Homo sapiens: one gene and its partners. The protein of the gene in region 2 interacts with the protein of the main gene of each other region in a biochemical or structural test. Each region holds a gene or a part of one and is shown on either strand. Other genes may lie near its edges. The genes, in order: VASP, RAPH1, SH3GL2 and SH3GL3.

Region 1 (3,042 bases), on a different chromosome or scaffold from region 2:
CAGGAGTTCAAGGCTGCAGTGAGCTGTGATCCTGCCACTACACTCCAGACTGGGTGAAAGAGCAAGACTCCAACTCATTAAAAAAAAAAAAAAAAAAAAAGAGGAAAGAAGCTGGGAGAGTGGTAGAGTGGGGGCAGAGAATCATCTTATGAGCCCTTTCCCAAATCAGAAACTGAGGCCTGAGGTAAGCAAATGGACTTGCCCAAGGCTACACAAAGTGAGGCTGCTTCTGGCCTCCCCTAGGGTGGTGAAGGGCAGGGTGGGATGGGGAGGAAGTGGCCTCCTAAGGGGCATGGGGAGGGAGGCTGGAGGGGGCAGAGATCATCCTGGCTGCGGGCCTGAGGATGAGTGAGCAGGCGCAATATGCAGGGTGGGAAGGAAGATGAAGGGAAGGTGGATTCCTGGGAGGAGGCAGGGGTTCTCAGCAGAGGACCAAATCTTCCTGGAGGGGCACCGGGGGCCGAGCACACCTCCATCCCCATCAGAACAGGCCTTCAAATCACTCCAGAGATCTTAGCATTTATAAAAACTGGCAGATTTATTCTGCAGGGGCCCATTTTCAAGAAGCTAAAGGTGAAGGTGGGAGGGGAGAAGTTTCCTCCCCTTCTCCTTTCTCCCTCATCTTATTTCCTCCAAGGGGTAAAAAAAATGGCCTGGACCCCAAAACCTACCCAAATAAAAAATCAAAAAACTGAGGTTCCAAAAAGTTACAGCATCTTATTTCCTCATAGAAAAGGGGAAGGAGCCAGAGGGAAGGGGAGTCCCTGGGGTGGGGGGATATCTCACCCCCAGCCCGGTGAGACATCCCCTCCCCTTAAATAGCTGCCCCAAATGGGGCAAGCCCAGGGCTATAGCATTTAAAAACTCCCACATCCCATTTTATCAAAACCAAAGAGAAAAAAAAATTTCCCTTTTCCCCCAAAACCCAAATATATATATATTTTTTTTTCTTAAAAAAACCAAAACTTTGAAGGCATTAAGCGTTAAAGTGAATCTAGAACAAGGGAATGTGAAATTCCCTCCTTCCTTCCCCCTTCCTGTGGGGTTCATTGGTGCATCCCCAGCAGAGGGACCGGCCCCAAGGGGATGGCAGAGGGGAAGGACCAAAGGGAGAAAAGGGCGGGGGCCTCCCCAGCCAATCAGCAGCCAGTGTGGGTGTGAGCAGGGAAGCCACACCCCCTTGGAGTTTTCCAAGTGGGATGGGGAGTGGGAACGATGCATTCCTGTGTAGTCTTCAGCCAATTCCAAGTCAAGTAGAGGCAGGGAAAGCAGGGTGACAGGCCGGGTGTGCGGAAAGGAGAAGCGGGTCTTCTGGGTCCCTGTGGTCAGGGAGAACCCCGCTTCCTCAGCTCCTGGACGAAGGCTGGAAGGAAACAAGGAGCAGAGGTCAGGGGCAGAGTCTCTGCCTCCTCCCTTCCAAAACAGGGCTCTTGCCCAGGGACATGATGCCTCCAAAATAAGTAAATGTTTAAGAACAAAACCAAAGCAAACCACCTCACCTTCAATGATTTCCTCTTTCACTTTCTGCAATTCCTTCTTCACCTCTTCCAGAAGCTCCTAAAATTAATGGGGTAAAACTAATCAGGAGGGGGTACCGGGACTTGCAGGAATGAATCCCCCTTCTTTTATTTTTTGAGAAGGAACCTTGCTCTGTTGCCCAGGCTAGGGTGCAATGGCATGATCACAGCTCATTGCAGCCTCAACTTCCCAGGCTCAGGTAATCCTCCTGCCTTAGCCTCCCAAGTAGCTGGGACCACAGTCACCTGCCGCCACAATCAGGTAACTTTTTCTTTTTCTTTTTTTTTTTGAAACAGAGTCTCCCTGTCACCCAGACTGCAGTGCAGTGGCCCAATCTCGGCTGACTGCAATCTCTGGCTCCCGGGTTCAAGCGATTCTCCTGCCTCAGCCGCCCAAATAACTGGATTACAGGTGCCCCCCACAAGGCCCAGCTAATTTTTGTATTTTTAGTAGAGACAGGGTTTCGCCATGTTGGCCAGGCTGGTCTCGAACTTTTGACTTCACGTGATCCGTCCCCATCAGCCTTCCAAACTGCTGGGATTATGGCTGTGAGCCACCATTCCCAGCCTAATTTTTGTATTTTTAGTAGCGATGGGTTTCACCATGTTGGCCAGGCTGGTCTTGAACCCCTGACCTCAGGTGATCCACCCACCTCGGCCTCCCAAAGTGCTGGGATTACAGGCATGAGCCACCGCACCTGGCCTTCTCAGGTAACTTTTAAAAGTTATTTTTAGAGATGGGGGTCTCCCGATGTTGCCCCAGGCTGGTCTCAAACTCCTGGCCTCAAGCAATGCTCCCACCTCAGCCTCGCAATGTGCTGAAATTACACACATGAGCCACCGTGCCCTGCCAGAGTCCCCTCTTTCTTGTTGATGGAAAAGCCAGGGGTAGTAGGTTTGAGACCTACCCCTACATCGACACCATGACATCGCTGTCAAGGTCGCAGAGTGACTGGAGGATTCTAGGGGAGAATTCTGGATCCTTGGAGCCGGAAAAGTACTGGAGAACATCCAGTACCAAGGTTGGCAAGCGCATTCCAGCCTCCTGCCAACTCCAATTGGTGATGGACAGCTGGGTCAATGTGCGGAAAGAATTCAAGGCACTCATCTGGAATGAGCGCGGTGATAGATTAATAATGTCTGTCACAGGTGCCAGAAAAGGGGGTGTGGAGTCTCGGTCATCCTTGACCCAATCCAGTTTCTCCATTTGTCAGATTGGAAACCTGAGGTTTCTGAGATGTTATCTAGGATCATACGGCATGCCAGTGGCAGGGGCCAGACCTAGATCTCTCTTGCTGTGGTCCCCAACTTCCCCCCCAAGTTACCTGTTTCACCCTCTGTAGGTCCGAGTAATCACTGGAGCTGGGCGTGCAGGGTTGGGTCTCGGAAGTGGTCACCGAAGAAGACGACTTCATCCTGGGGGAGTTGGTGTGGTTTGGGACAGCAATGAGATTAGAGAGAGGACCTGCTTCCCCGCCTCCTATTCCAGGGGTCACATTGAGCTCTGCCTTATAAATTGGGCAAG
Region 2 (7,656 bases):
AATTACTGTTTAATGGGAAGAATTTCAGTTTGGGATGATAAAAAATTTCTGGAGATGGTGGTGATGATGGCACAATAATGTACTTAAGCCACTGAACTGTACACTTAAAAATAGTTAAAATGGTAATTTGTATGTTATGCATACTTTACCACATTTCTTTCAAAGAGTATATGTGTGTGTTGCTTTAGTGGCAGTGTAAAAACATGGTTAAGAATACAAGCTTAAGAATTAGGCTGCCCGGTTTCAAATCCAGCTCTGCCACTATAGCTCTGCAGTCTTTGGGCAACTTATTGTCTGTGCCTATTTTCTCAAATAATAGACTCTATTTCATAGGGTTATGGCGAGAATTAAATAAATTATCACATATAAAGTGTTTAAAACAGTGTACGTCATACAGTGGCCACTTTTTATTATTATAAGTTTAAAATACATTTTTATTGAGATTAAAGTCAAACATCTGCAGAATCTCTGAAATTCTCAAGTTCAGTGAAACAGTTTAAGAAGCAGTGATCTAATCCAAACTTCTCATTTTATAGGTAAAGGAATTAAGAGTCCAAGATAAGTTATCTGCCTGAGGTCACATCTTGCTTCACTAATATTAATTTTCCTAAAATTAAGTGTTTGGGATTAACAATACTAATGTTGACATTCAATTACTTCCAAACCAAGGCAACCAAAGCCATGAGATTCTACAATGTGTAACCAAGAATCTGTGAATAGTGTGACAGTTATCCACGATGCCAATCTAGTAAGTATTTATGGGGTGAGCACCAAAGGGCAGCAAAACCAAAAGACATAATCATCCTCAAAGACAATGGTTAAAAACACCTCTTTGGAAAATAAAGAGTTAAATATTTGTGAAAACACACCCAATAGTGCCCACTACTCCACTCCTTTCACCCAGTCACATACTCTATAATCTTAGTGAGACCTCTGAGTCTGAAAAATAAGCTGCTGCTTCTACCAAATAAAGCTAACGTTTATCATAAGGCAACATCTACAAATAATTCTTTATTACATTCAAACAGGAGACAGCAATCTAAATTATACAAAATGTCTAACCCAAAAAATCATGAATTAAGCTTTTTGTACTTACTTGAGTAGGGCTGCATCTGGTTTCTGGGAAATTCACCACACAAAAAGCAAAATAACGGAGACAATCTTTGAAGGTCAGACTCAACAAGAGTTAAAAGCTATTGAGCGTCTCTATTTTGCCCCTCCCCCAAAGGTCCTCCCCCTCAATTCGGCTCTCAAAGGATAGCACCACCATGTGAAATGTCCTCCTCCCCATCTGAATCTGCTGAAATCCTACTCATCCTTAAAGGTTTCACTTAAATGCCGAGGCTTCCATGCATTCCTCCCTCAATTTAGAATTAATCTCTCTTCTTCGCTCTCCTATTCTATACCTCAACATTTTACTATATAGTTCACTGTATTACACTTACCTACATTCACTAACCCCCCGCACCGCACCCCCAAAAAAACCACCCCGAGGAGGAAAGGAATTTAAGGTGCTGTTAAACACCTCTATGCCAGGCAAGGTGCTACGCATTTTGCATACATTATCTCATTTAATCTACATGAAAAACATCTGGGGAGGTAAACAGGTGGTGTTATTCCCATTTTACTGATAGGGAACGTACTGCAGAGTTCAATAGCTTATCCAACTCACATTGCAAGCCAATTCCAGGGCGTACGGTTTCCCCCACTCCGAAGAGCTCTTTCCACCACCCCATGCTTGTTCACCTGGTGTCACCCAGCCTAACTGACAGAGTAGGTATTCCATAAATGTTTGCTGAATTTAATATCCCCATGGACTGACTCTTTAATAATCCGATCACGCCTCATCCCTAACCCGTTACCTTTACTGTTCCTTAACGGTGGACTTTACCTACATAAGCAGCTCTCCACATTTCCCTGAGAAATGCTGCAGACAACATCAACCCTTATTGGAAGATTGAGTGAAGAACTTTTCCATTCTCCCGGATTTCCCCAACGGATCTTCCCAAAGAATTTAAGAAATGCACACACGCAAGACACATGTAACACTTACACCCTCCCTCAAGGCTCTTATTTCATATTAAACCATGTCTTCGAGCTTGTAAGCAATAAGGTTTATGCGGTTTCCAGCTCACACAGTGGGGACACCCTAAGTCACTGCCTTAAGAAAACCACATCTTTCAACCTGTCTTAACACGAAGGCATCCTAATACTATCACACTGCCCCCTCCCTCCGTCCACCCCCCCCCCCCCCCCATGAATTGCAGTTTGGATTTCCGGCGGGAATGTATAATACAGACCGCAAGAGGAGACGCGGTTAAAAAGCAATGAAGCAATTACTTATCCTGTTTAATTAGAAAGAAGACACAGAAGGAGCCCCGCCTTTCAAAATCTCTGCACTGAACTCATCTATGAAAGATGGGGGCATCGAAACCCAAGCAACCCGACATCCAGTAGCTGGTTTCTGCAGCTGGGCGGGGGAAAGTCCTTTCCTCCCTGCGGTCCCGGGCCACCAGCCCCCGGTGCTGGGTCGGAGAAGCCTAACCGCACCCTCCCAGGCGGCCCCTTATCTCATTGTCTCCCTCCGTCGCGGTCCCCAGGGGCGCAGGGTGCAGTCCAGGCCCCACCGACCTCCATCCACCAGCCGGGAGCGGTCCAGCCAGCCCCGGCCCGATCCCCAACCTGGCAACGACCCCGCCCCAGGCTGCCGCCGACCGTACCGCACCCGGATGGCGGGGCCGGGCGCCGGGAAAATGGAGGCGGGAGCGGCAGGAGCGCCTCACGGCCCCGCGCCCAGCCGGCTCCCTACCCCCTGGCCCCGAGGGCGAGGCTAACCACTCACCGCGGCAGTCGGTCGGCCTTCCCGCGGCCCCGGGCAAGGAAACCGCCGCTCGCGCTCCTCCAGCCGCTGCCTCCGCCTCCTCCCCAGGCGCGGCGCTCCCTCGCCAGAGACGCAGCGACTGCCAGCAGCTCCCGCGCCGCGCGCTCAGTGACTGACTGACTGACTGACTGACTGACTGACTGACTGACTGGCGGGCGGCGGCGGGAGCGGGGGCGGGGCGGCCGCAGCGCCCCGCGGCGGCGGCGGCGGCGGCGGAGCCGAGTGTGCTCGCGTCCAGCCGAGACGCAGAAGGCGGGGTTGAGGGCCGGACTGCCGACTGTAGGGCCGACTCGCGCGGGACCGCGCGCCGCCCCCGCCCGCCGCCAACCACTCACTTCCGGCGCAGGCCGCCGCGCCCGCCGCCCTTCCCTAGCCCGCGCCCCGCGCCGGCCCTCCGCCCTCCCTTCAGGCGCCCGGCCGCGCCCGGCCGCACTCAACCGCGGCTCCGCTCGTGCCTCGCCTTTCCTCCGCAAGTCCCTGTGAGCCGCCTACAGGAACGAGTGAATCAGAGAATGAATGAGTGGGGAGGAAAATCCCAGTGCTGCCCCACCCCCTGCTCGCCTTTCATAGGAAGCCGGCCCAGCAGCCTCTGTCCTAGCGCCCTGGGAGGCACAGCAGCCTCCAGCAGTTCTGTCAGGGAGCTGTACGCATCCACCTTTATACGCTGTCCGTGTATTCAGAGACTCCAGAAACGCATCCGGGGTTGGCTCGGTCACTTACAGGACCATTGTCGTTGAGATCTGTGAGGCCCTTCTTTAGGAAATCCCATTTTGGCCAAAAAGTCTCTGCAGTTTCATGGAATGTATTGGGAAACTTAGGAACGGGACATTTCGATGACCTTTACTTTTTAAACTTCGAAATCTGTTAATCCTGCCTCCTTAATTTCTGTCCCCCCACCCCATCGGAATTGTGTAGTAGTAAGGTGTCGGCATTTTTCCTTATCGCTAAGCTCAGCTGCTGCCTCTTTAGATGCAGGCTTGACTTCGGCAGACTTTTAGATTTTAAGTATGTCCTTATTTTGACCTTCACCTAAAGTTGATCAAAGAAAGGAACAAATGGAACTAAGTTATGTTTGCTTGGCTACATGCAAAGCAAGTTTGTTGACAGCATTAAAACAATTGAGAAATTGGGAGTGTGACCTGAAATTGGTTGCAATGAACATTGCTTTTTCATGTCTTCCCATCTGCTTGCTAAGAATTTATTTAAATTTTCACAAAGCATTGACTGTACATTCCTGAAATCCTAGCTCCCTCTCTAAGAATGAGAGTGTTCATTTCTCTGTCCTGGGGCCAAATCCTGGTTTGGTTAATTACATTCTTACTTCCTGATATTCTTGAGGACTTTCAAGTGGTTTCAGTCTTTTTTGTACAATCTGTTCCAAACTGGTACACAATCTGTTTCAAATTGGTATTTAGAACCATACAATACAGATACTGGCTGCCTTTCACACTTGAGATATCTGTACTTTTGAAACATAACTGCCCTTTTGTATTTTAAGTTCAGTAGGTATGTCAATATTCTTGTATAGAATAATACTATCTCTTGACTGGATTAAGAAAATGTGGCACATATACACCACGGAATACTATGCAGCCATAAAAAAGGTTGAGTTAATGTCCTTTGTAGGGACATGGATGAAGCTGGAAACCATCATTCTCAGCAAACTATCGCAAGGACAGAAAACCAAACACCACATGATCTCACTCATAGGTGGGACTTGAACAATGAGAACACTTGGACACAAAGCAGGGAATATATCACACAGGGGCCTGTTGGGGGGATGGAGAGGGGGGAGGGATAGCATTAGGAGATATACCTAATGTAAATGATGAGTTAATGGGTGCAGCACACCAACATGGCACATGTATACATATGTAACAAAGCTGCACGTTGTGCACATGTACCCTAGAACTTAAAGTATAATAAAAAATAAAAATAATAAAAGAATAATACTATCTCTTATAAATGAAGATGATCCTGCTGACCAACTTCTTTTAGACTTCTCTTCCTTTCTTGTGGGAATCATCATTTGCCACCTAATTATTTCAAGAAGTTATCCTCCAAAAGTGAATATAATACAACACTTTATTCATCCTTGTATCTCCCACAATATCTAGCATAGTATCTTGCACAATAAGTATTTATAAATTAATAAATGCTTTAAAATTTTTCATAAGTGATAATTTTATACAAATGTATCTAGTCTTTCACCTCATTTCCCTTGTGACCAAGTTTGTTGACATTAGACACACCTGGGTGCCAAACTTAATGAATCCTATTGTCATTAAATGTACTAGGCTGTGTGATACCTTACAAGGAAGATGATTCATTTAAACCTCCTTAAAAAAATAGACGATTGAAGCCAGGAGTGGTGGCTCGCACCTGTAATCCCAGCACTTTGGGAGGCTGAGGTGGGCGGATCACCTGAGGTCAGGAGTTGGAGACTAGCCTGGCCAACATGGTGAAATCCCATCTCTACTAAAAATACAAAAATGAGCTGAGCATGGTGGCGGGTGCCTGTAATCCCAGCTACTCAGGAGGCTGAGGCAGGAGAATCACTTGAACTTGGGAGTGGAGCTTGCAGTGAGCCAAGATCCTGCCATTGCACTCCAACCTGGGTGACAAGAGTGAGACTCCATCTCAGAAAAAAAAAAAAAATAGACCATTGAGTGCCTTTTACATAGGTCTTAGCCAACTCTTCTCCAAGTGCTTAGCCTAAGATCAAGGTTAATTAAAAGAGAAAAAAGGTCACTTTCAGTCATTGAGAAAAGAGTGTTCTCATCAGTTTCTTTAAACCATTAAATCATTCGTTCATTCAATCAGAGTTTATTAAGCTACAATTAAGGCCCAGGAATACAAAGACAAGAAAGACGTGGCATGATGCTTCCTGCCTACAAAAAGCATACAGTCTAGTGGGTAAAGCAGGTAAGGAAGTCATTGTTAGACTGGAAGTCCATTACCAGATCAGGAAAGCCTTCCTGATGGGGAGATTCTTGAACTGAATGTTAAATGATAGGGAGGAGCTAACCAGAAGAAGGAGGGAACAAGCATTCCAAACGAAGAAAACAATATCTCTGCAGGTGTGTGGAAGCACCAAGCATCACCATGCTTTAGAGGCACCGTAAGTGTATTAGTCCGTTTTCATGCTGCTGATAAACACATACCTGAGACTGGGAAGAAAAAGAGGTTTAATGGACTTACAGTTCCACATGGCTGGGGAGGACTCACAATCATGGCAGAAGGTGATGAGGAGCAAGTCACATCTTACATGGATGGCAGCAGGCAAAAAGAGAGCTTGTGCAGGGAAACTCCCATTTTTAAAACCATCAGATCTCATGAGACTTATTCACTATTATGAGAACAGCACGGGAAAGACCCACCCCCATGATTCAACTATCTCCCACTGGGTCCCTCCTACAGCAGGTGGAAATTATGGGAGCTATAAGATGAGATTTGGGTGGGGACACAGAGACAAACCGTATTAGTAAGTAATTCCATTTTGTCAGAACAGGCATAGAGAAGAGTCAAAGAGGTTGGAGGAAAGGGTAGGAAGGGCTTCATTCATGAAGGGGCTCTTGTTAAACTAAGGAATTTGAATTTGATACTCTGGGAAATGTAGTAAATAATAAAATATTTGAAGTATTTTAGCTCCAGAACAACTGAGTTTGTGTTTTGGAGACCAAGAAGACCAGACTGGAGCAGGAGAAAATTAGGAGGTGATGGCAACAACCTGAATCCTAATGAGATGTGTGCTGCAGGTCTCAATAAAATCAAGAGGTCATAAAATGGCGAGGAGGGACTAGATGGGAGATATATTAAACAGGTAGAATCTACAGAATATATAACTGGATATGAGGGAGTGAATGCAACAGAGACATTTAGAATGACTCTCAGGATTCTGGTTTAGAAGAGTGACTGAATGGTGGTGACCTCTGAAATAAAGAGCGTGGGAAAAGAGCAGGTTTCAGGGAACTGGCTGAATACCTGTATGAGAAAGAATAGTACCATAAATCCAGGCATCTTAGTCCATCATTTCCCCAAGTGTTCTTTGGAACTCTAGTCCCACAGGATTTTAGTAGATGTGATTCCCCCTCAAAATTTTAAGTTCCTTTAATCAAATGAGAATGCCAGACAGTTCAATGGGTTTCTAAACTAGAGAGATTTCTGGTGGTTTTAATATTTTAATGTGCACTGGGAATTTCTGAGGTAGATATTATATACAAGCGCTTTCCAAATGTATTCAACCATGAAACCCTTTTTCCAATGGAACATCTTACAAGACATGTGTTCCACAGCACATACTTTGGGAAATGCTGACCTAAACCAGATTTTTGGTTTATAGTAAAGGAAGCTGTAGCTTAAGGCATGAAGTGACTTGTCTAAAGTTAAACAGCTATTACTAGAAGATACTGGACTAAGGTCCAGTATCTTCTGACCCCAGTCACATTCTCTTTCCAGTACATACTGCTTTATGAGTTACAAACTCAATTCCAGCACCTTCCACCAATCATGGGGAGAGGAATAAAAAATTATGGAATATATCGTTTTAAATGATGTTTCCAATCAGTCATTTTTAAAGATATGCTAATTTTTAATGGTTAATATTTTACATAAGATAAAAAGATTTGTACATTGGAGAAGTGGGACCGATTATCACCTTCATATGATCTTTCTGATAATTGAACAGGAGACTTATAAAATTAAATTGCCTAACTAAATAGAATATTCATCTAGTCGTCCTATCCCTGAAGTAGCTTTAAATAAAATAAACTTTC
Region 3 (7,037 bases), on a different chromosome or scaffold from region 2:
AAAAGCAAATAAGAAATGAATTTTATATTTTTTCCAGTCACCACCAGCCTTTACATGTGCTGTTAGCCTAACTGCTACATACTGTTTGGATCTAAACTTAAAGATACTTCCCTCCAGGAATCCTTTGCGATGCCCCTCCCCAACTGATGAGGACAGTGCCGCATATCTGGGACTCTCCTCAATCCCCCATCAAGGCACTTGGCATATTTACTTCACTCTAATTAATTTTAAAATAGACTCTACCCTCAGTTCATTATAAACTTTGTGAAAGCAGGGACCATAATTGTCGTGCTCATTGTAATATCCCTGGGACAGGGTTGCAGGATGTGCTCTCCTGATAACTTTTCTCATCTCTATTCAATGCCTCTAAGACTCAAAGTTTAAATAAAAGCCTTGTGAAATAAATGTCAAGATTGTCAGCCACTGAATGCTGGAAGTACCTTAAGCTGTGATTCTATCTGGGGTTTCCATTGAAGATGGGATTTGGGGTATAGTCCTAGGTTAATGTGTAATCCCAACTCTAATTTTGAACCTGAGGAACCTAGGTATCCTAGCATCAATTAAGTCATAGGCTTTAACAATTTTTTTAATAAAGCTGTTTTTGCCACTAACACTGGAATTGGTTTCTAGGCAACTTCTTTTATAAAAACAAAAACAAAGAAAGAGAAATTGAAATGTTCTCTTTGAGGCACAAAACTAATTTTCTCTAGTTATGTGCTGGAGAAGTGATTAAGTCTTTTAAATGAACACAGTATTTTTGCTCTTCATGGGTCTGTTTACCATCAGAATCTTAGTTGAGAAATGATTTTGAAAATAGTTCTGTTTCATACATGGTATAAGTGAAACAAGGCATAAGGCCCACTCTGCAGGAATTTACCATTGGTTCCTTATTTTAATCCTTAGACTCCTAGAATTGAACTATAAAACTAGAATAAAATTTAGAGATCATCACATAATTCGAGAGTTTGTAAAAAGCTCTCCATGGAAGCACCCAGCTCCACAGAGTCACTGCAGGGGCCACCACAGTGAAGGGAGGATGGGGAAGGGCACACAGTGATAGAATTTGAGCGTGTAATCCTGCTTCATCCAGAACAGAATTGCTGTAATTCATTTTAAGATCTTAAGGGAAAGGGAGAGTTTAGTGCTTTAAAAAAGTGGTTGATAAGACTGACTGACGGAGAGAACACTGGAGCGTACTGAAGGTACACTTATCAGTAGCTGAGCTACTTTGTAGGCTGCTCTGAGACCTGATCCTCCATCCAGCCCTATTTCCGCAGTGTCACATTGCCTACTCTGAAAGCTTGTTCTCTCTTCACCTTCAGCTTCCAGAGCTAAGCTCAGCATGATCAACACCATGTCAAAAATCCGTGGCCAGGAGAAGGGGCCAGGCTATCCTCAGGCAGAGGCGCTGCTGGCAGAGGCCATGCTCAAATTTGGAAGAGAGCTTGGAGATGATTGCAACTTTGGTAACAAGTGCTTCCTCACATTGTAATTCTTTCATTTGTCCATGGGGATTTTGGTGCTGGTAAGAAATTCTGTAGGGAATCGGTCAAATCATTTTATATTTTGGTTTTCAGTTTTAGATCCTACACACATGGGCCAAAAATTTGTTTTCAGAATTATTTCATCCGCTCTAATGTGATTTATCTTACAAGTTTTCTTCCCACCCCCCCCACTATAAGACCTCAGTCTTTACAACAGCTTTGGTTGACATATCCAGATGCCTCCTTGGCACTTTCTATTGGGTGTTTCTGGCAGTCATTGAGTATTGAAGCAGAGTGAGCAGGCACAGTCAGCATGATTCAAAGCCCTCCCTGCCTCATGGCCTTTTTCATAGATCTTTGCTCACTTGTATATGGTACCTAGTTCTACTGCCCAAGGTGAGACATGATTTATTCCTTCACCCTGTCTCCCCCAAAACTCAGCTACCACACCCAACATCTTCTATTTTCACCCCCTTGTGATGTGGGATCTCCTTCCTGGTTGAACCCGGCTATTTCTGGTACTTGCTTCTGCTAATAGATTTGCCTTAAGCTAGTCCCACATTAGGGAAAGCTGGTACTTACAAGAGAGGGCAGGGAGCTTCCTAAATTGCTTCTTAAAGGAAAAAGTAACTGTTCCATTCTTGATGAGAGGTATTTACCCTCTTAGGGGGCATTGAGTCTGTTGCCTGGAGTGAACTGAAGATACCTATTCTCTCTTGTCTGTTGTCTTTAGAAGACAAGTGGTAATCCTTTGGGTTTTCATCTGTGAAGGGCCCTGTTATTGCGAGTGCATTTCATCTTTATTCTGTAACATGAAAGAGCTTTATTCTCTCCTAGGCCCAGCACTTGGTGAGGTCGGGGAGGCCATGCGGGAACTGTCGGAGGTCAAAGACTCTTTGGACATAGAAGTGAAGCAGAACTTCATTGACCCTCTTCAGAATCTTCATGACAAAGATCTTAGGGAAATTCAAGTATGTACAATGAGTCTTCTGGAAAGTGGGCAGTTGAAATCATACAGATGCAGATGCCTTTTTTCTTTAGAAAACATTTTTTTAGCTTACCCTGTGTGTTGTCAGCTCTGGGCACGTTAATTACAAAACAACCCAGTAAGACAAAATGAGAGAAACCAGAAATGTGATACTTTTCAGCCTGTTATGACTGTGCCACTCATGAGGGCTGTCTCTGGCTTCTCTATGTTTGATTTTCATATTGAATAGTTTTTTTCAGACTTTTTCTCCAGAGGATAATATACTTTTCCTGAGAATACACAGTTTTGTTAATTATTCTATGGTTTGCTGGGCTGATTTCACCCACTAAAATGTTAGTTGTACTAGTTGTTAGCTTAAATAAATAGTTATTCTATCACTGCATAAGCACATATTTTTATTTTTTTCCAAGTCTAGAAATTAGATGGATGTTATGTGTTTTTATATTAATATTTTCATAATGGTTGTTAGGATTGAGGAAGAATACCAACTAGCCACTTTCTAAAACATGTAGAGCAGTTGAGCTGTTTATAATAAAGTTCATATGTCTTTGAGTGTGGAATGTTTGCTCACTTTTTTTTATCTAACAAATATTTGTTGAGCTTTTTTGAAACTTTGTTGGGTGTAAAATGGATTGCCATAACTTGAACTAGGGCCTCCTCCTCCTTATTCTAGCTTAAATCTCCTTTAGCAGTACCATTTGCTCAAGATTATAGAGTTAGTAAGTGACAGACTGACCCTAAATCCAAAATAGAACTCTGACTCCAATGCTGTACCCTATAGCTCAAATGTTTAAAAAAGAAAGTTCCTTCCAAATGAGCATTTAGTTTTTGGATCAGGGCATGGACTGAGGGGCGGGGGATGCAGTGTGAGGGAAGGTTTAGAATATTATTCTTCCTCCTTTCCTTTTCATTTTTTTAACTACTCCCTACTTTGTTTTCATTTCCTTTCATTCTGCTCCATACATACTAGTAACAAGGGAAAATCCAGGATTTTCCTTCATCCATTAGTAGTGAAAGACTAGCTATCGGGGAAAAACAATACTTTTTAGCTTTGGAAAACTACTTTGCTACCTGGTCACTAGAGATGATGGGTGGAGCCTGGGCAGCCATCTACCAGGTATGGTGCAAGGAGGGGATTGAAGCTCAGCATGGAGCATTAGATATAATCCCTTGGTAGGTCCCTTCCAAGTGAGATTTTGTTCTTGAGTTCAATTATATGTCAAGTGGGAGGCTTAAACTAAATCACTGGATTTAGTTTCTCTGGTGACAGCTGCATCAGTCAGCTGGGGCAAGTGTTAAGATGTAGATTCCTAGGCCCCCACCCTAGATATCGATTCAAGAGCTCAGGAATCCATATTGTGATGAGCAACTTACGTGATTCTAACAGACTGGATGATTTGAAAAGCAAGACTGCCATTTCTATCTCACTTAATTTCAAGGAAAGAGTTTTTCCTCTGGCTTCTCATGAGATACCATTTCTCTTGAAGACAGGGCCTGTGGGGCCTGTGAGTGTGTCCTTTCATTGTGTGTAGGGCATGTGCATTCCTTCTCTGTTTCTGTCATGGGCTGCAAAGGCTTAGTCCAGCTTGGCTTTGGCCTGACAAGGCCAGAAAATAAAGGGCACTGATATTTCCTATAATTTATCTTTTATTCTTAATTATTTTTAAAGATATTCCCCCATATTTAGCCTTTGAAAGCACTGGCCCCATTGATGCATGTTTCTTTATTTCTCTGGTGGCGTTGTATTTTAAAACTTAGCCTATCTTAATTTGGAAGTTAATGGACGTGATGGAGAAGTGAGCTCAAATAAGCCTTTTCCATAAGCCCTTTCAAAGCCTATTCCTGCCCTTGACTTTTGCAGCATCATCTAAAGAAGTTGGAGGGTCGACGCCTGGATTTTGATTATAAGAAGAAACGACAAGGCAAGATTCCGGATGAAGAGCTTCGTCAAGCTCTAGAGAAATTTGATGAGTCTAAGGAAATTGCTGAGTCAAGCATGTTCAATCTCTTGGAGATGGATGTAAGTGACTCCTGTGGTTTTCAATTTAATCTTATCATCGAGGCACAACATTAATATGTTAAAGGCCATAACCCTTAAAAGCATTAATATCTGATTACACTATGTGATAAGAACTTCAGTAGATAGTTATTTATTTTAAATAATTGTCAGTCATAAAGTAGACTGAGAAATAGAAAAGTTTCTTCTGCATTCCTGTAGTTTAACTAGATTCTCGACTGCTAATGAATCTTAAAGTACAGATGCTCCTTAACTTATGATGGGGTTAAAGTCTTGAATATATCATGTAATTTATCGAATAACGCATTAAAAGTAAAAAACAGAATGGTTGTAAGGGTACTTGAGGTATGGTTTCTACTGAGCACATATCAATTTTGCACCATCATAAAGCCTACAAATCGTAAAGTCAGGGACCATCTCTCTTATCAATAGTGGGAAGATAAAGGATATTTCTGAGGATCTATGTATAACTCAATAGAGGCCTGAGAACTCAGTTGTGGAGCAGGGGGCATCAGTAGTACTGGTGCAAGTCCCAGAGTCCAAAGGCCAGAAAGCCTAGAGCTGTGACATCCAAAGACAGGAGCGTATGGGTGTCCCTTCGCTAGAAGAGAGAGAGAACAAACTTGCCTTTCCTCTGCTTTTTATTCTATCTGGGTCCTGAGCTGAGTGGGTGGTCTCCACCCCCATAGGGAAGGGCAGCTCTTCCTTTGTTTAGTCTACTAAGTGAATGCCAGTCTCCTCTGGAAACACCCTAACAGACACACCCAGAAATAATGCTTTACCAGCTATCTGGGGATCCCTTAATCTAGTCAAGTTGTCACCTAAAATTAACCATCACATTGCCTACTTGCCTTACTCCTGACTGTGGCAGGGGAAGTGTGTTGAACATATCCAGACTTTCCTACCACCTGGAGACAGTGTAGGTTTTTGTTTATGTAAAACAACTTGTGTCCACCTAACTCCTCGAGAGGAATACTGTGTGCATGAGGGGTGCTCCAAATCACAGTGCTCCTTCCCTGCAACACAGCACCCCTCCCCATCCCCAAATTCATGGGACAACACTGCTTCTGTTGACTTGGAGGCTGCTACCCAGCTGGATCATAATGTGAAACATAAAATCAAGAGAAATCAAGCTTAGAATATTAGAGCAAGAATGAACTCAAGATGTCACTTGATTTAACCCTTTTACATTACAGATGAGGCTCAGAGAGCACAGAAGATTTTCTGTCATACCATGTCGCCTCTCCGGGTACATTATGTGAGATATTGTCACATTTTTATTAACAGTACCGATATTAACAGCATGAAAAGTATAAGGAACAAAGAGTCCTTTGGCCAGTGTACCTTCTTTTCTATAGAATAAAAGAAGTCAAATCCCAGATACAAGATTGTAGCTAAGCATGAGACTCTTTAGAGCTATATGGTCTTCCTGAGGGTTACCCATGTTGCTTCTCCTCATGGTACTGATACGCATGATTCTAAGCATAAGGATGCTTTCTTTTATCCTTGATGGATTTGAAACCTGCAGAACTATCTATCTTAGTTGGCTTATCACACAGTCATCAGCACCACCAACCAGGGGCTGTGTGTTGAGGGCAGCCCTGGTGTATGTATGAAACAGTAGTGGCTGTTTAGGGATGGTAACGTGTAAAACTAAGGCATGATTTTCCCATCAATCTGCAGATTGAACAAGTGAGCCAGCTCTCTGCACTTGTGCAAGCTCAGCTGGAGTACCACAAGCAGGCAGTCCAGATCCTGCAGCAAGTCACGGTCAGACTGGAAGAAAGGTATTCTACAGTTCCCTGCATTTCACATTTGCATTTTATTGCTATAAAATGATGTATAAAGAAATGGAAATCATAGAATACATTTGGAGACAAACGTCTGCCAAAATTCCGCTTATCCTACAGAGGCGCCTTGTGGATTGTTTTGATTTTGTTTTTTCTTGTGCTTTGTTTTACGTTGTTCTGTTGAATCTAATTTTCTGCTTATGAGAGATCGATACTTGGATTATATTTTGGCTGCCACAGGTGGAACACCAGGATGCTACTGCTGATAATGGATGCCATTTGCTGAGCAGTTATTCCATGTGGGTACTGGATACATATCATCATCAATCTTATAACAGCCCTGTAACCTAAGTGTTTTTAGCCTCGACTAACAGATGAGTAAACTGAGGCTAAGAGAGGTGAAGTAACTAGCCCAGGGTCACTCAGTGGTGCAAGTGGAGTTCACAGCCAGCCATAACCTGTGTGAGAGGCTGTTTCTTTTCACATCTTGTGTTTCTCTGAATGGCGGTCAAGTCCTCTGCCATCAGAGAGAGCTACTTTCACCTCATTAGATGTACCTCACAGCAGGGCTGTAGTAGTAGGAAACTACCGTGTGAATGTGGCTCCGTGGAGTTGTGGGGCACAGCCTGTTTGGCTATATACCAGTGGCCCTATGTTATAATATGTGTTATTTTAATTTAGCCAGATTAAACAGGATGATTTTGCTGAACATGTATACCTCAAAGGGTCACCTCAGCAAGCTTTTTTCTTAGGCCACA
Region 4 (7,037 bases), on a different chromosome or scaffold from region 2:
ACACTCCCTTTTCTCTGTTAAAATAATCTTTGTTTCAATACTTTAACAAGGAAGACTGTGTTTTCCCACCTCTGCTCTCACGTTTCGTTGAAGCCAGGTCTCAGGAGTAAGAGAAAATCAACACAAGGCCACTTGGGGAGGGCAGTGCTGGCTGAAGCCGTCTCACTGGACAGCCCAGGGTCAGGGGTTTCAGCCGCCTGTTCAAGGACACCGAGATCCACAGCAGCCACCTGGGAGCTCCTACACAACTATGCCCAGCGATTCCAGGTGCCAGCTACTGAATGTGAGAGAGCAAGGAGGTGGAGGTGGATGAGGAACTGCCAGCTGCAGGACCACAGGGGCAAGGGGAAGGGGTTGTCAACAGGGATGGGACGCTGGGTAGGATCAGTCTTTTCTTACGAGACGTTTTCAGCTGAGGTGCTGGCTTCTGATGGTGGGAAACCAAGCATTCAGGTCCCTTGGAGAGGCTTATATCTAACAGTTGGAAAGCCTCCATTGAGGAAATCCAGCCCATTCTGCCTGGACTTTGGGGCTCCATCCATGGTGACTTTTGTGTCAAGGGAAAATTCACACACTGTCCCTCAGGCGGGCAGCAACTTAATTTCTCTTTAGCTGAACTGAACTTGCTTGCAAGCCTCTATGTAGACCAATGGCGGAAACAACTTAATCTTTTTTCCATTTCTGTTGTTGACCAAAAAAAAAAAAAAGCTTTAAAATCTTTTTTCCATTTCTTCTAATGGTGGAAAAAAGCATAATCTTGCCATTTCAAGGTAGCTCAGTCTCTTCCAATAGAAAGCATAGACTATCCGTTTATGACTTAGGCGATTCCAGATTTAAACACAGTCAATTCAGAGTAGAAATTCCCTATCAGGGCTGTTGGTTTTTCTTGAAGGTTCTCTCCTCCCCCTGGTCCAGTCCTAAGATGTTGCCTAGATGTGAGGGGGGTTTACAGAACATCATGGTGGCAGGTAGGGAGGCTCACTTCCACAGCTGAGGTGACTCGTCACAGGAGGCCTGGGGCCTGGGCCAGGATCTGTGCTGACATCTGTGGCTTAGGCCTCCCTCTCTGGGTTGCTGAATCTCTGTATTTGGAGCCGTGTGTCACTGCCCCCAGGCAGCCTCTGGCCTCAGTGGCCCCTCAGCACTTCCTGCTGGGGACTTGAGGGAATTTGTTCACAGTTCACAGGGAGCGACCAGCCTTCAGGCCCCATCTGTACTTAGTGACACCACATGGTTTCCACTGGGCTCCAGCCCCCGTGTTAGTCCAGAGAACTTTGACAGCTGCCTTCTCCCGGGATTTCTGTGGAAAGTGGAGTCTAAGACCCCCTTCCCCAGGGTGGCATCCAAGGAGCATTTCAATTTTCTTGCTCACCCTCTTCTCACTGCAGGCCCCTTCCCTGCTTCCCTGCCTCCAGAAAGAGCTTGTATCTCTTCTCTGGATGGCAGGAAACAGCTCCTCCCTCTCCATGGCTTGTAATCAAAATGCTAGGCTCTGAGTTCTTCAAGCTCTAGTTCTTGGAACCCAGAAGTTTCTCTCTCTCTCTCGCTCTTAAATCTTATAAAAGCCTACCTGGCTCTAGCATGAAAGCCTAAAAGCCTTGGCTTTCACAATGTTTCACAACTGAAATGGTATTATTTGGGAATTTAAAAGCTAAACATTGACTGCTTTGTTCATGTCTGGGTTCCACCCTCCTCCTCAAGTAAGGGAGGCAAGCCCCAGCTCCTTGGGTTGAGGGCCCCAGGCAACAGAAATGACCCAGAATGAAAAATGCATTGATACTTCAGAATATCGTCCGGCTGCATGTATAATTCAGGGCAGCCAGTCTGAGCTCTGGTTGGGGTGGATTTACCAACTGCCTACTTAGCAAGTGCCAATTGCTCTTAGTGTTGTAGCCAGCCCAGTGGTGGCTGGAGGGCCAGGTGCACTTGTACTGCCTGAGTCAGGGAGTTCTTGAACAGGGTCTTTCTACTCAGTGGTCTCTGGAGAGATGCCCTGCCTTGGGTTTAGGTGCTGATGGAGTGTGATATGAGTGCTGGTCTCTTTCCAGCTCTCAGAATATCAAAGTGGGCAATGTGGCAGTGGTTCCTTGCCAAGAATGAATGACATGAGAAGTGAGTAATGCAGCTTTTCCATGATTTGTTCTGTGTGTGTGTGCAGCAAGAACCCAGGTTTACACATGGAGGTGGTGGCCTGGTTTACACATGGAGGTGGTGCATACACTTGGACAAATGTATGCTTGCCACTAAGCATTTTGGTCATTGCAGGTGGCTTATAGAGTAAATGGGAGGGAAATATATAAATCTATCTATCTATCTATCTATCTATCTATCTATCTATCTATCTATCTATCTATCATTAGCCCTGTAATCAGTGTGTCAGCCTATGAAATGTCTTGGCAACCCTTAGTGGTGTCATAGATCATGTACGAGGTGACATGGAGCAAGGTAGCTGATGGCCTAGGGTCTGGAGCCCTCCTGTTTCTGGCTCAGCCAGTAGCCCTGGGGCCAGGCCATTATGACCTCTCAGAGGCATTGATGGCTTCTCTTGGAAAAGGAGAGGACTCATGGAGGACTGCCAAATTCCATTCTAGCATTAACATTCTGTGTTCAAGGAAATGCTTCCCGAGACTACCATGTGGTTTGGCACCTGACCCCTTCTCTGTTAAAAACTAGTCTAGTAGTGGGAGAAATGCTAAAAGAATAATAATTATTTTTATAATCCACATTAAAACAGTTATACATTAATAAAGTAGACTTTGACTCACAGCTCAGGTTGCCCTTGGTTTTCAGTGCTCAGCCCCCACCTGCCCACCCATATACACACTCCATGACCCAAGGAAAATGAAAAGTTCTGTATTGTAAGCCCTCTATTCCCCATGCTTTGTTTGAAATCATTGAATGTTGTTCTGTTCAAATTCAAAATAGTGAACTAATCCCCAATATTTACAGCCTTCCACCCCCTAGCTTTCATCATTATGACAAGAGGAATACACAGACTTAGGCAGGGGTGGGGTCTGTCACGGAAGGAGCTGTCTAGAGGCTAGAAACATCATGTAGATCATAGAGGTTATATTGCAGGTGGGTTCAGAGTTTCAAAGTCACGACCCAGTACAGGAGCTGCCTCCCTGAAGAGGAAGAAGAGCTCCCCTACCATTACCCCCTTCTCTTTCCTCGCCAGCTGAGTCTCTTTAACCTTTAACGCTTCCTTAGGGGAAGGAGAGGGGAGGATCATTTCACTGGTGGTTGTCAACCTACCCTGGACATAGGAAGGACCTGAGAAACAAAAAATACTGATGCCGGGTTCACCCTGGGCAGTGGGCTGTTTAGTGTGCCACCAAGTTGAGAACCACTGCCATAGGAAGGCAACAGGAAGCCACCTTGGTACAACCTGGGGAGCTCCGCTGATGAAGGCTCCTTAGAGTGCCCTGTTCCTTAGAGATATAGGCGCTACTCCATGAATTTCAAGCTGTCTAAACAACTATAATATAATCCTTCTCACAACAGGAATCTCCATTGCCCCAACTCTTGTCTTCCTCCTCCCATAATGCTGTCACCTCTCTACCCCTCCCCAGGACAAAGGGGCATCTCATTTGGCCAGCCACAGAAATACCCCAACGTACCTATTCTCTTTACTTGGACCTAGAAGACTTAGTGGAGAAAGAACATAATCTCTAGCAGAACTTGTTCAATTCTCACTTGAAGTCTAGAGGGAGGAAAAAGTCTTATAACAGAAAAAGGAAATAAAAATGGAAATCATCAAATAGGATGGCAAAAGTCACTTATTAAGAAAAAAAAAAACTCCTAAGATTAATCTTATTAATACTCAAAGAAAAAAAGTATGAACTAGTCAAAATTGAAGTGAGATTTTTGTGAGAGAAATGTGTCATATTAATACTGAAATATACCTAGTTAAATGAATTCATGAGAATAGCAAGGAAATATTGAAATAGAAGGGTAATGACTATGAACTAGTTTTACTAGTTATTAACATTTTATTTATTTATTTATTTTTGAGATGGAGTCTCACTCTGTCACCCAGGCTGGAGTGTAGTGGTGTGATCTCAGCTCACTGCAACCTCCGCCTCCCAGGTTCAAGTGATCCTCCTGCCTCAGCCTCTTGAGTAGCTGGGATTACAGACATGCGCTACCATGCCTGGCTAACTTTTGTATTTTTAGAGATGGGGTTTCACCATGTTGGCCAGGGTGGTCTCAAACTCCTGGCCTCAAGTGAACTGCCCGCCTTGGCCTCCCAGAGTGCTGGGATTACAGGTGTGAGCCACCACACCCGGCCTGTTAACATTTATTATAAAGCCACAGTATTTAAAATGATATGGTACTGTTACCAAAATGAGTCAGTGGGACAAAATAGAAAAAATCCAAAAATAGATCTAAGTCCCATGATGATTAAATATATGATAAAGATAAAGGCAATACTTGAAATCACTGGAGAAAATATGGATTATTTAAGTATGTTGTTATGACTGCATAAGCATTATTAAATATAATAGATATTTACCTCATTTTGCCAAAATCCAAATAGATTATAAAAGTTCTGATGTGAAAAAAATTAAATAAAAATACTAGAATAAAATTTAGTTGAGTCTTTATATAGGACTGTGGAGAATAAACCATGAATAGAAAGTTTGATTAGTTTGACTGCTTATACTCTTCAATTTGTGCATTCATGCCAAAACAAAATAGAAACCCCTTTCCCTGCCCCACTGCCAGCACAAACTTCAAAAACAAAATGAGAAAAAAAAAGAACAGATGATAAGTTGGGAATAATGTTTGTACCAGAAATGACAGATAAAGGGTAAATATGTGTAGTATAAAGGGACTTCTAAACATCTTAAGAAAAATAGTGATATTAGGTTGGTGCAAAAGTAATTGCAGGTTTTGCCACTAAAAGTAATGGTAAAAATTGTGATTGCTTTTTTTTTTTTTTTTTTTGAGATGGAGTCTTGCTCTGTCCCCCAGGCTGGAGTGCGGTGGCGCGATCTTGGCTCACTGCAACCTCCGCCTTCCGGGTTCACGCCATTCTCCTGCCTCAGCCTCTCCAAGTAGCTGGGACTACAGGTGCCCGCCACCACGCCCGGCTAATTTTTTTGTATTTTTAGTAGAGACAGGGTTTCACTGTGTTCTCGATCTCCTGAACTCGTGATCCGCCCGCCTCAGCCTCCCAAAGTGCTGGGATTACAAGCGTGAGCCACTGCGCCTGGCCACTGTGATTGCTTTTGCACCAACCTAATAGAAAAATAAATTGACACTAAATGTCAGATATTTTAGAAAGAATTCATGTTCTATGACCATGAAATCCTTTTCTTGGAATTTATCCTCAGAAATTAATAGTGCACATTTGTAGATATTTATGTATAAGCTCTTTTTCCCAAAGAATTGTCTATAAAAGCCAAGGGGGAATAAAAGAGACAACAGAAAGAAATGAAGAAAAAGGAAGAGAAATCGAGAAAAACAGGGAGGGAGAAGGAAGAAAAGAATGAAGGAAGGAAGGAAAAGAAGAGATGAAAAGAAGAGAAGGAAGGAAAAGAAAGAAGAACCGTAAATGTCCAACAATAGGAGATTAGTTGAAGAAATGTTACATTGTGAGAGCTGACAGCTAGTCAGTAACTAAAATTGAAAGATATTCACCCTAGCTTGTACAAGAAGAATCTTTTATGAAAACAACTATATGTAAATATATGCACAAATATAATCATGAAGACATCTGGAATCTGAAAGCTAGCCCAGTTATCTCTGGGGTAATGGTTTACAGCTCTGACTTTTCTTTCTCCACTTTGCATACATGTATTTTTTGTTTACAATTAGCATGATTTTGTTTTGAAAAAAATGTTTTTGATGTTATTCTGGGACTAGATGTCAGTAAATATTCTTGTCTGTAAATTCTGGTCTGTAAATATTCTTGCCTTTCTTGTCCTGGTTTCTCTCCTCCCGGCCCTTGTCCTGCCCATTAACTAGGAAGATCTTGCTGACCACCAAGGTCCTCCCTACTACCCTCTCCCCAGAGCTCCTGAACCATGAGTGATACACACTTCATATTTGTTCTTTAAAAGATTTTTGGCCATGCACAGTGGATCACGCCTGTAATCCCCACACTTTGGGAGGTTGAGGTGAGCAGATCACTTAAGGCCAGGAGTTCGAGACCAGACTGGCCAATATGGTGAAACCCCACCTGTACTAAAAATACAAAATTAGCTGGGCGTGGTGGCGCATGCCTGTAGTCCCAGCTGCTTGGGAGGCTGAGGCACGAAAATTTCTTGAACCTGGGAGGCAGAGGTTACAGTAAGCCAGGATCGCACCATTGCACTCCAGCCTGGGCAACAGAGCAAGACTCTGTCTCAAAAATAGATAAATAAATAAATAAAAGTTTCTCGTGTATTTTCTAATCCCCACAAAGAAACTGTAAGCTCCCAGAGAGAAGGAGGTGGGCCTGTGATTCCTCTGTCGCTCCCTTAGGGCTCCAGGTGGAGCTGACTGGCTGCTTTTGGGAGATGGGCTGGGCACGACTTCTCTGCCTGGGAGTATTGAAAAGATAGACTCTGGGCTCATGGGGTTGGCGCAGGCAGCTGGGAGAGCTGAGGCAGCCAGAGACCACAAACGGCACCGTGAGCTGGGTGGAGCTGGCCTTGTGGGAAGGAAGCAAGGCCTGCTGTTAAGGGTCTCTCTGAGCTTTTCCACATTTCCAATTTCCCATGGATAATCCATCATGTTCATCTGTACTTTTTGTCTCCATATCATGTGGACAGGTTCTAACATTCCCATGGACCAGCCCTGCTGTCGTGGTCTCTATGACTTTGAGCCAGAAAACCAAGGAGAATTAGGATTTAAAGAAGGGGACATCATTACATTAACCAATCAAATAGATGAAAACTGGTATGAAGGAATGATACACGGAGAATCGGGATTCTTCCCCATTAATTACGTGGAAGTGATCGTGCCTTTACCTCAGTAAATGTGTAACACAAACTCTGGACATACTTTCGTAACTGAAATGAATTCACACCAGTGTGCTCTCAGTGCGG

The links.
Region 1: the proteins of RAPH1 (region 2) and VASP form a complex in vitro, tested with the Homo sapiens proteins (one study listed by BioGRID).
Region 3: the proteins of RAPH1 (region 2) and SH3GL2 interact in far-western blotting, tested with the Homo sapiens proteins (one study listed by IntAct).
Region 4: the proteins of RAPH1 (region 2) and SH3GL3 interact in far-western blotting, tested with the Homo sapiens proteins (one study listed by IntAct).

Annotation. Positions count from the first base shown.
Region 1 is NC_000019.10:45,524,461-45,527,502, reverse strand, and holds the end of VASP (vasodilator-stimulated phosphoprotein), read right to left. Parts: intron 2,934-3,042; coding exon 2,843-2,933; intron 1,558-2,842; coding exon 1,500-1,557; intron 1,364-1,499; coding exon 1,326-1,363; 3' UTR 520-1,325; downstream 1-519. UniProt on the Homo sapiens protein: Ena/VASP proteins are actin-associated proteins involved in a range of processes dependent on cytoskeleton remodeling and cell polarity such as axon guidance, lamellipodial and filopodial dynamics, platelet activation and cell migration.
Region 2 is NC_000002.12:203,532,269-203,539,924, forward strand, and holds the start of RAPH1 (ras-associated and pleckstrin homology domains-containing protein 1), read right to left. Parts: upstream 3,034-7,656; 5' UTR 2,843-3,033; intron 1,964-2,842; exon of another isoform or gene 1,941-1,963; coding exon of another isoform or gene 1,892-1,940; exon of another isoform or gene 1,120-1,891; coding exon of another isoform or gene 1,097-1,119; intron 1-1,096. UniProt on the Homo sapiens protein: Mediator of localized membrane signals. Implicated in the regulation of lamellipodial dynamics. Negatively regulates cell adhesion.
Region 3 is NC_000009.12:17,785,059-17,792,095, forward strand, and holds part of SH3GL2 (endophilin-A1), read left to right. Parts: intron 1-1,322; coding exon 1,323-1,466; intron 1,467-2,321; coding exon 2,322-2,455; intron 2,456-4,333; coding exon 4,334-4,492; intron 4,493-6,172; coding exon 6,173-6,276; intron 6,277-7,037. UniProt on the Homo sapiens protein: Implicated in synaptic vesicle endocytosis. May recruit other proteins to membranes with high curvature. Required for BDNF-dependent dendrite outgrowth.
Region 4 is NC_000015.10:83,611,321-83,618,357, forward strand, and holds part of SH3GL3 (endophilin-A3), read left to right. Parts: intron 1-93; exon of another isoform or gene 94-97; coding exon of another isoform or gene 98-267; intron 268-6,761; coding exon 6,762-6,967; 3' UTR 6,968-7,037. UniProt on the Homo sapiens protein: Implicated in endocytosis. May recruit other proteins to membranes with high curvature.